Regions from separate parts of the Homo sapiens genome. Here region 2 is linked to region 1. The links come from fine-mapping of genetic effects on plasma protein levels. A gene starts in region 1. The other region holds a variant in brackets. All regions are shown on one strand. Distances are between the middles of the regions.

The links. PIP is the posterior inclusion probability: the model's chance that the variant is causal. Sun 2018 read protein levels with aptamers (SomaScan).
Region 2: its variant is fine-mapped to the plasma level of the VEGFC protein (Sun 2018, PIP 0.95).

What each region holds. Positions count from the first base shown.
Region 1 is chr4:176,790,747-176,796,130 of GRCh38, reverse strand. VEGFC (vascular endothelial growth factor C) reads left to right here and starts at 3,209. Exons shown (of 7, transcript NM_005429.5): 1 at 3,209-3,966. The coding sequence starts at 3,820.
Region 2 is chr4:176,870,323-176,875,706 of GRCh38, reverse strand. LINC02509 (long intergenic non-protein coding RNA 2509) reads right to left here and starts at 5. Exons shown (of 2, transcript NR_149104.1): 1 at 1-5. The variant A/T (reference allele first, on the strand shown) is at 2,852.

The DNA of each region.
Region 1 (5,384 bases):
GATCCTCCTTCCTCAGCCTCCCCAAATGCTGGGATTACAGATGTGAGCCACCACACATGGCCCGAAACTTGTATTTTTAAACTAAAAAGAAGAAAAATGAACTAAGCATTCAGCTAAAAAAGCTTGAAATGAAGCAACAAAGTAAAACTAACAAAGCAAGAAGGTAGGGAATAACAAATGAGAAATAAAGTAGATGGTCAGAATGGATATTAGAGAATGTACAATGGATATATTATCATCATTATTTTGCCATCCAAAACTATCATCTCCCATATCTACTTGGGAGGCTGAGGCAGGAGAATAGCTTGAACCCAGGGGTTGCAGTGAGCTGACATGGTGCCACTGTACTCTAACTGCACTCCAGCATGGGAGACAGAGCGAGACTCCATCTCAAACAAACAAACACACACACACACACACACACACACACACACACAGACACAAAACACAAAGAACAAAACCTATCATCAAAGAAAACAAAAACTCAATATGTAAAAGAGGTGTTATTCTGGCTGGGGCCCTGCTACCTCTCTTTCTCCACTGACTGAGCAATGCTTTTTGAATAACCAGATTTAGAAGACCTGTTGTAAAATAGGTCTTGCATGAAGCTAGTGATGAACTCACAAACCAGTGAAAAGGACTTTCTCAACCTTTAAAATCTGCTAGTGGCAAAAAGTGTTTCCAGGGGGTAAGGAAGAAAAAAAACCAAAAAGTCCTGAGCAACTATTCGTTTTTACCTTAAGACATTCTGTGTGTGTGTGTGTGTGTGTGTGTGTGTGTGTGTGTGTGTGTGTGTGTGTGTGTGTGTGTTTTAAGTAGAGACGGGGTTTCACCAACGTTTGAAAATATTTATCATGGTCTCCCTAAGATGGACGGTGTTAGCTAGGATGGTCTCGATCTCCTGACCTCATGATCCACCCGCCTCGGCCTCCCAAAGTGCTGGGATTACAGGCGTGAGCCACCGTGCCCGACCAACCTTAAGACAAACAACTACTGCATGATTGTTTTTGGAGACCTTTTTTTTATTCAAATAAACTTTTTGCCAGCATTTTCTGACTCAAAGTATAGCAGCAGGAAGATAACACTTTTGTGAGAAAAAAGTTTGAATACAGCTTACTGCTGTATTTAAATGAAACAGTAGTTAATATGATATTAATATATTTTGGATATATTTTGAGTTTGTTGATTTTCCAGTCTTCACCCGCTGCTAGGCCTGTGGGTGTTGGAAATGCCTGTGGTTCTCAATTTTGTTTGCCTATTAGAATCCTGATGTCCAAGCCTTACTCCAGTTAGACCAGTTAAGCCAGAAAGGCAGAAGGTGTACTCAAGCATCTGTTTTTTCAAAATCTCCTTTTGTGATGCCAAGTGCAATCAAAGTTTAGAATCATTGTAATAGCAAATGGTTGAATGGAAACTCCACCTTCTATTCAAATCCTACCCCAGTCTGCCCTTAGCTGTTCCCTTTTCACAGATCTATCAATGTCTGAAGATAACTATGGCAGGCTGATCAAATATGCATAGAGCAGGAAGACAGCAAGAGAGTGATACACTGACCATGTTCCAAATCACAAAACATCTCAACAGGCTAGATCATGGACCGAGTCTGATGGGATGGAATTTCATAAAGATACATAAAAAAGCATCTTGGATACAGTAAACTTAACTCCACAAATACAGGGGAATTTAGACGTGACTAAGTAGCAGTACATATGAAAAATTATTGAGGAATTTTGTTGACTTTAAGGGTAGTGTGAGTCAACACTGTGATTTGGCTGCCAGAAAATAAACTCAATCCAAGGCTGTATCAACAAAGGCATACTGTCCATTCTGCATGCTCATTACAGCACTAAGTACCGAGCCATGTTCTCAACCGCATACTTCATGAACATGGAAAGCTAACAGTATGGTTAAGGGGGGAAACTGGAACTGTCATCTTGGGGAATAAAAGGGATATTTAGCCAGGAGTAAAGTTAGCTTAGGGAGACCATGATAAATATTTTCAAAATATTTGAAGGACTCAGTTGTGGAAGTGAGATTAGATTTATTGTGTAAAACTCCAGGAGTCAAAAGCAATAGAGAGATAGAAGGAAATGCTTTTCAGCAGTGTTGCTCATCAATAAAGGGAGTGAACAGCCACACAGAATGGAAGGTTCCCTGTCCTTTGAGATATTTAAGCCTTCAAGTAAATTATGGGTGAGGAGTTTCAAATCTAGAGTTGAACCAGATAAGAAAGTCTCTTCTTCCGGTAAGATATTATGGACCTATAACATCTGTGTACTTAAAAGTAGATTGGGAGTGAAAGGCAGACTTTTGATGTTCTGTACACTGTTGAAACCCCTTAGCGTGGTCCTCTGTAACCTGCTCACCCTGCCCCAAGGAGGCAGCTAGCCAATGCCACCAGCCCAACGGAAACCCCAGTGCTTTTCCAATGGGGAAATGCAGTCACTTTTCTTTGGATGCTACACATCCTTTCTGGAATATGTCTCACACACATCTCTCTTTATCACCCCCTTTTTCAAGTAAACCAACTTCTTGCAGAAGCTGACAATGTGTCTCTTTACTCTCCACGAAGATTCTGGCCCTTCTCTTCACCTGTCAGAAGTTTAGGATTCCAAAGGGATCATTAGCATCCATCCCAACAGCCTGCACTGCATCCTGAGAACTGCGGTTCTTGGATCATCAGGCAACTTTCAACTACACAGACCAAGGGAGAGAGGGGACCCCTCCGAGGTCCCATAGGGTTCTCTGACATAGTGATGACCTTTTCTTGGAACTTTTACAACCCCCAGGACATTTCCAAACTTTGAGCAGGGCTCTGGGGGCCAGGCGTGCGGGAGGGAGGACAAGAACTCGGGAGTGGCCGAGGATAAAGCGGGGGCTCCCTCCACCCCACGGTGCCCAGTTTCTCCCCGCTGCACGTGGTCCAGGGTGGTCGCATCACCTCTAAAGCCGGTCCCGCCAACCGCCAGCCCCGGGACTGAACTTGCCCCTCCGGCCGCCCGCTCCCCGCAGGGGACAGGGGCGGGGAGGGAGAGATCCAGAGGGGGGCCGGGGGAGGTGGGGCCGCCGGGGAGGAGGCGAGGGAAACGGGGAGCTCCAGGGAGACGGCTTCCGAGGGAGAGTGAGAGGGGAGGGCAGCCCGGGCTCGGCACGCTCCCTCCCTCGGCCGCTTTCTCTCACATAAGCGCAGGCAGAGGGCGCGTCAGTCATGCCCTGCCCCTGCGCCCGCCGCCGCCGCCGCCGCCGCTCAGCCCGGCGCGCTCTGGAGGATCCTGCGCCGCGGCGCTCCCGGGCCCCGCCGCCGCCAGCCGCCCCGCCGCCCTCCTCCCGCCCCCGGCACCGCCGCCAGCGCCCCCGCCGCAGCGCCCGCGGCCCGGCTCCTCTCACTTCGGGGAAGGGGAGGGAGGAGGGGGACGAGGGCTCTGGCGGGTTTGGAGGGGCTGAACATCGCGGGGTGTTCTGGTGTCCCCCGCCCCGCCTCTCCAAAAAGCTACACCGACGCGGACCGCGGCGGCGTCCTCCCTCGCCCTCGCTTCACCTCGCGGGCTCCGAATGCGGGGAGCTCGGATGTCCGGTTTCCTGTGAGGCTTTTACCTGACACCCGCCGCCTTTCCCCGGCACTGGCTGGGAGGGCGCCCTGCAAAGTTGGGAACGCGGAGCCCCGGACCCGCTCCCGCCGCCTCCGGCTCGCCCAGGGGGGGTCGCCGGGAGGAGCCCGGGGGAGAGGGACCAGGAGGGGCCCGCGGCCTCGCAGGGGCGCCCGCGCCCCCACCCCTGCCCCCGCCAGCGGACCGGTCCCCCACCCCCGGTCCTTCCACCATGCACTTGCTGGGCTTCTTCTCTGTGGCGTGTTCTCTGCTCGCCGCTGCGCTGCTCCCGGGTCCTCGCGAGGCGCCCGCCGCCGCCGCCGCCTTCGAGTCCGGACTCGACCTCTCGGACGCGGAGCCCGACGCGGGCGAGGCCACGGTAGGTCTGCGTTAGGGTTTGCGGAGAACCCGAGAGTTTGCGTTAGGGTCTGCGGCGGACCCGAGAACCTGCGCGGGGGAAAGTGTGTGTGCTTTAAGCTTGTGTACGTGGGATCCAAAGTTACTGAGCTCAGTGCACGCTGCTTTGGAGAAAAATCTTCTTCTTTTTAAATAGAAAGTTGTTACTAGAGAGGCAAGCAAGTTACACGAGTGAAGGGCCCGGAGAGGTGCCCAGTGAGAGATCCCGAAATCTATTTCAGACTGGTTTCCTCTGGGGCAACCAAGGGGTCTTGAACCCTGCCCAGTCAGCGGGGCTCTGGAGAGTATGAGTTCATTTTGGTCGGGAAATGCTCGTTTCTTTCCCCAGCTGATTCATGGGACTCCAAACAGATTCTGGGACACTGGTGATCAGTCAACCCAGCCTTACTTTCCTGGAGTGTTCATAGTCTGCAGAGCACCAGGCGCTGTGAGCGACTTTAGAAAAAAAGTGTCAGGGACTTTAGTAACCAGGCTCCAGAGCTTTCAGAGTTCACTTGAAGTTGGTCAGACTTGAGATGTAACGGGAGATTAGAGTCAGTTAGATCACAATCAAGCAATGCAAGGCTTGTTTCAACTTTATAAGCTCTTCATTCCTAAAATCTGGTCATGAGATACTGCAAACTAAGTTTTTTTTTTTCTTGTTTGGGTTTTTTGTTTGTTTTGTTTTCTTTTAAATAAGAGGTGTTTAATCCTTTGCCTGAAAATGTTGCCAAAATACTTTTGAGGCATCCTGATTTTGAAAAAGGATTTGTGTGTGTTCCTACTTCTTACTGGCTCTTCCAAAAGAGTATATCTTTATCTAAAAAGTTCATACCTGCCATAACCATATAGAGTATGCTTAAGAGAGTTCCTAAAGAAGTTATATTCGACATTTCAGTTCAAACACTTGCAGTACCCCTTGCTGGAACTATACTGCGGTAGTTTATTTCAACTGGTGGCAAGTGGAGAGGTACCTGTGGTGTGTTACAGTCAACTTTAATTTGACTGTTGATTAACACATACACAATGTGTAGAAAATAGCCTTATATTTTGAAATATTTTATTTATATTTATATTTTGAAATACACTTAAAGATTGAGAAGACTAATTTTTGGAAATCAAACTACCTTTGCATTTAAATTTTGGGAAAACATTAAAATGTTGGAATGTGTAATAATTTAATATAGGGGTTAAAGGAATGCCTCTTGAGTAAAAACAATATACATGAAATAGAACAGACTGCATTCTGTGAATCACAAAAATAATTTTCAGTGCCTATACTTACATTGCCGTAACTATAGTGATGAAAATATCTTTCTGTTCTTAAATACCGCAGAAATGTAATAATCGGCTCAATAACGCTTCTGATAATTTGAGTCCTTGATTTTGCAGTACCTATTT
Region 2 (5,384 bases), 80 kb before region 1:
CTTGCATCACAAGTGGCCACATGCACACAGATGGAAGTGCTTCTCAATCTCTAATTGCATTTGAGTCACAAAGGCCTGAGGCCCTGAGCAGGGGCCAGTGTTACTGAGGTCAGAGGGAGGTGATCTCTGTCAGATTCTAAAGCCTATGTTTGCAGCAAGCATCATTGCTCTCTTACTGCCCCAGAAGGTTCAGAAGAAAAATAATACAGAGAATATAAACTTGTCAGGGCTTTATGAACCTGGTCAAGAAAATTAGTACATGTAGAAAAGTTTCCTGGAAAGAAGCTCAAACAATGAGGTCAGTTTTTAAGAGATTTTGTTTCTTTCTCCAAAACTATCCAAGCCCTGCTGTCTCTGTAGAATACATTATTTTATCGCCTTATGTAAATCATTATTTGTTGGCTTAAATGACATGGAGCGAGTGGAAATACTAAAAATACTTTGTAACTTAGCTCTAAGGAATTGCGGATAAAATACTGGCTTCTCAGCTTGGGTTCTGGCTCTAGCCCTATTGTCAACAAGCCACCGTGGGTAAGTCACTTAACCTCACTATGCCTGATTTTACTCATCTAGAAAACCACAGTAATAGTACAGGCCCTGCAGGCCCGGAAAAAAAAAATGAGGTATGGATCAAATATAAAAATATATCAGAAAGATGTATTTTGAAAATCATACAATGGATTTATCTAGGAATCTGTGTATATGTAAGGTGATAAAACTTACCACTAATTTAAAGGAAAATATTCTTTTAATCTCAAGGGAATTAAATACTGCAAATCTTACGTGATGTTTTCGGCCATTATTTACAAAAACGTTTCGCTATTGGGAACAAGAAAACAAAGAGAAATACTTTTAGAAAACTACTTTTCTCAGGGGAACTTCCATAATGTGAGTTTCTGCCTTGCCTAATTTTACACTAAAGCTAAAAGAAGAAACGGTAAAGTTATGTAAGAAGCAAGTTTACAATTGAATTATATGCAACCTCTGTTAAATATAATTTTAAATAATTTAAAACAAAATTTCCACCATTCAGTAGTTAAGCGCCATGTCTGTATGAGAGCACTGAAAATAACTTGCTTATTATGTATATGTCCAGAGATATAATCTTAAAATTGCCATACATAATAGCATATAGTGTGGTTTTAATTATACAGTTTCCTAGTAGAAAGGCAGGATAAAATATTGCCCCTTTTTACAAAGTTAATTATTAATCAGATAGTGTCTTATCTCTGCTTAATAATTTTATTTTTTAAAGATTACCTTTTACTGCTCCCTTGAAATTGAAGTTTCCAAAAAAGAAAATTAAACCATCTAGCGACCTTCTGAATATTACTCCAAATATTCACCTCCTCTGTCAGTTTCTCATGTACATTCACACATCTTTTTCAGTATCACCTGACATTTATTTTATCCATTAAGATCTTATTAATCAGGTCTCACTGGGCAATGTATCCCAGGTAAATGAATTTTATTTAAATCTAAAACTCATTTTCTTAACATTTTTTAATGATTTTGTATGAAAATATTTATTCCTTATTCATTGAGTCATGAGTATATGATAGACTCTTTTTAAATATTATGTCTAACTATTCAAAACCTTGACTCTTTGGTTTTGCTATCCCATTTTTACTGGGGCTGTAGAATCTTGTCCAAAGACATCCACACAGGACAGCACCATCAAAGACTGCAGTGCTAGCCACATGTGGCTATTGGGTACTGGAAATGTGGCTAGTGCAACCCAAGAACTGAATTTTTGATATTATTTAAGTTTACTTGCCTTAAATTTTATTTAAAAACTAATGCTTGCATCAGTTATTAGAAAATTTTAAGCGTGTTTGGATGAATTTGGGCACATAGTTACATTTTCAACAGTAAATTTTATATAGTCTAAGAACAGATCAAACATTTCAGGTGATAATTTAGTACCAAAATTGAGATACTTTTGTTGTAAGTGTAAACATACATTAGATTCAAAGATTCAATACCAAAATATTGTAAAACACTTCATAAATATTTTAAAATATTGATTATATATTCATATAAAATTTGGCATATATTAAATTAAAGAAAATATATTATTCAAAGTAATTTCACTTACTTCATTTTACTTAATGTGTCTATTATAAATTACGTATATGGCCAGGCATGGTGGCTCACACCTGTAATCCTGGCACTTTGGGAGGCCGATGTGGGAAGATCACTTAGGCCGGGAGTCCAAGACTAGCCTAGGCAATATGGTGAAACCCTGTCTCTACTAAAAATACAAAAATTAGCCCAGCATGGTGGCAGGTGCCTATAATCCCAGCTGCTTGGGAGGCTGACACGTGAGAATTGCTTGAACCCTGGAGCTGGAGGTTGCAGTGAGCTGAGATTGTGCCACTGCAGTCCAGGCTGGGTGACAGAAAGAGACCCAGTTGAAAGAAAGAAAAAGAAAGAAAGAGAAGGAAGGAAGGAAGAAAGAAAGAAAGGAAGGAAGGAAGGAAGGAAGGAAGGAAGGAAGGAAGGAAGGAAGGAAGGAAGGGGAGAGAGAAAGAAAGAGAAAGAAAGAAAGAAAAAGAAAAGAAAAAGAAGGAAAGAAAGAAAAGGAAGAAAGGGAAGGCAGGGAAGGCAGAGAAGGCGGGGAAGGCAGGGAAAAGAAAAATAAATTATTTATTGGAGGGCACTGATATAAAATATAGCTGACTTTAAAGTAAAATCTAGTCTGTCTCTCTCCCAAGTTGGCTATTTCCATCAATAGGTGACTGATTCTCAGGGTATGAATCATTAGCATTGACCGTTTCTCTCGTGGTTAAACAGAAATATTAAATATGGTCAAATTTTAGAATAAACCAGGAACATCATTATAACATAA[A/T]TTGTATTCTGTGCTACTTTCAATACCACTAGGGTATTTTTAACTTGTATTAAGGAGCTCCAAACTGTTTTGGGTTTGTGGTTCTTAAATCCAATTATAAAATTAAATTTGTTTCTAATTTTTTCCCCTTGTTCTCAGACTATGAATTGCCTCCCCTCCCCTAGCCACACTACAGTCATACATTCCCTAACACCTCCTACTTCCCTGCTTTCGTTATGTGACTGTGGGACTTACTTTCTGTGGACCAGGAAGTCAACTAAAGTCTGCACTATTATCCAACCATTTGTCTGATAGATTCTCGGAGAAGAGCAGAAAGACATAGCATAATGGCCTTTCGATAAATATTTCAGCTGCTTAGAGAGCTTTTATTCTCTTTTTTTTTTTCTCTCAACATTCACTTTTGGCATGGTTCTAGATACTCCATTTGGCAAAGTAAGAGAATTTAGGGGTTATCATTTCTGTTTTTCATATTTTGGCTCAGAAGTAAGTACACATTAATTAATTCTACAGCTGCTACTATCTACTAAAAATGGCAAAAGGCATCACACAACAAAAATTCTGACATATAGTTTATTAAATTAAGAATGAAAATATTCCATCTGCCAAATCTTTTATTTCTGAATGGAAGTCCAGTAGAGAACATTCAGAAAAACATCGTGAAGGGCTCATCGTTGTAGATGACTTCAAGACAACAGCCAAGATGGTGGACTCTGTTGTTCATACATTTCTATTTTATAATAGGACTCCTGTTGACTTTATAAAACTAATTTTCATTAGATTACAGAGTGTCTTCTGAGGTCTGCTTAGAAGGTTTAAGTAGGTATTTTCCCGGTGGTATCAGTAATCAAAGTTAACGTACCATTTTTAGTCTAATTACTTCTTTTGTGCTTTAATATTTTGTTTTGCATTGTTTGGAGTCTTTTTTGTTTGTTTTCGTGTAAGAATATCTATGAATCATGACGATCGACAAAAATTTAGAATTTCAATAGATAAATTTAATTATAGAGTTTTGAGTTTTAGAAACCTTAGAGTGGATTACAAAGAAACAAAATAAAAGTCCTATTAACATTTTGACCTTTATCAAAAGTCTAACTCCATTCTACCACAAGCTCACAGTCCAACGTGTGCATCATTAAGAGGACAAGCAGAATTTCTGAGACCATAAGCATTTTTTATGGTTTATTACATTTAAAAATAGCCTTTCACATTCTACCATATTTAGTGGGGATGTTCAACTAAAATCAGCTGAAGAAAAATTTAAGTCCTTTTTCAAACAGAAAACTGAGAACTGAAATGGTAACACAGAATACCGAGAATTGACATTGCCCAGTTATTTGTGCAATCTAATCACTACTGCCCTAATAACAACTCTAACCCTGTTTCTTTCAAATGTACCTGTTGAAAATCAGTAACAATTTGGCTCTTATTCCTTTTGTTCCCCTATCCCCAGTGTCTTTTGAGTATAAATTTGAGTTTTTAATGTTACCAGTGAGCTCTACTTGGAAGAAATGTGAAATTTATTTGAAAGCTGTATATTTAGAGTGGTTCACGATGTTTTAGGGGTATAGTCAAGACAATCCTAAACAAAAAGAACAAAGCTGGAGGCATCATGCTACCTGACTTCAAACTATACTACAAGGCTACAGTAACTAAAACAGCATGGTGCTGGTACCAAAACAGATATATACACCAATGGAACAGAACAGAGGCCTCAGAAATAACACCACACATCTACAATCATCTGATCTTCGACAAACCTAACAAAAACAAGCAATGGGGAAAGGATTCCCTACTTAATAAATGGTGGTGGGAAAACTGGCTAGCCATATGCAGAAATCATATACTGGACCTGTTCCATACACTTATACAAAAATTAACTCAAGATTCATTTGAGACTTAAACATAAAACCTAAAGCCACAAAAACCCTAGAAGAAAACCTAGGCAATACCATTCAGGACATAGGCATGGGCAAAGACTTCATGACTAAAACACCAAAAGCAATTGCAACAAAAGCCAAAATTGACAAATGGGATCTAATTAAACTAGAGAGCTTCTGCAGAGCAAAAGAAACTATCATCAGCATGAACAGGCAACATAGAGAATGGGAGAAAATTTTTGCAATCTATCCATCTGACAAAGGTCTAATATCCGGACTCTACAGGGAACTTAAACAAATTTACAAGAAAACAAACAACCCCATCAAAAAGTGGGTGAAGGACATGAACAGACATTTCTTAAAAGAAGACATTTATGTGGCCAATAAACATGAAAAAAAGCTCTTCATCACTGGTCATTAGAGAAATGCAAATCAAAACTGCAATGAGGTACCATCTCATGCCAGTTAGAATGGCAGTCATTAAAAAGTTAGGAAACAACAGATGCTGGCAAGGATGTGGAGAAATAGGAACACTTTTACACTGTTGGTGGGAATGTATATTATTAGTTCAACCATTGTAGAAGACAGAGTAGCAATTCATCAAGGATCTAGAACCAGAAATTCCATTTGACCTAGCAATCCCATTGCTGGTATAT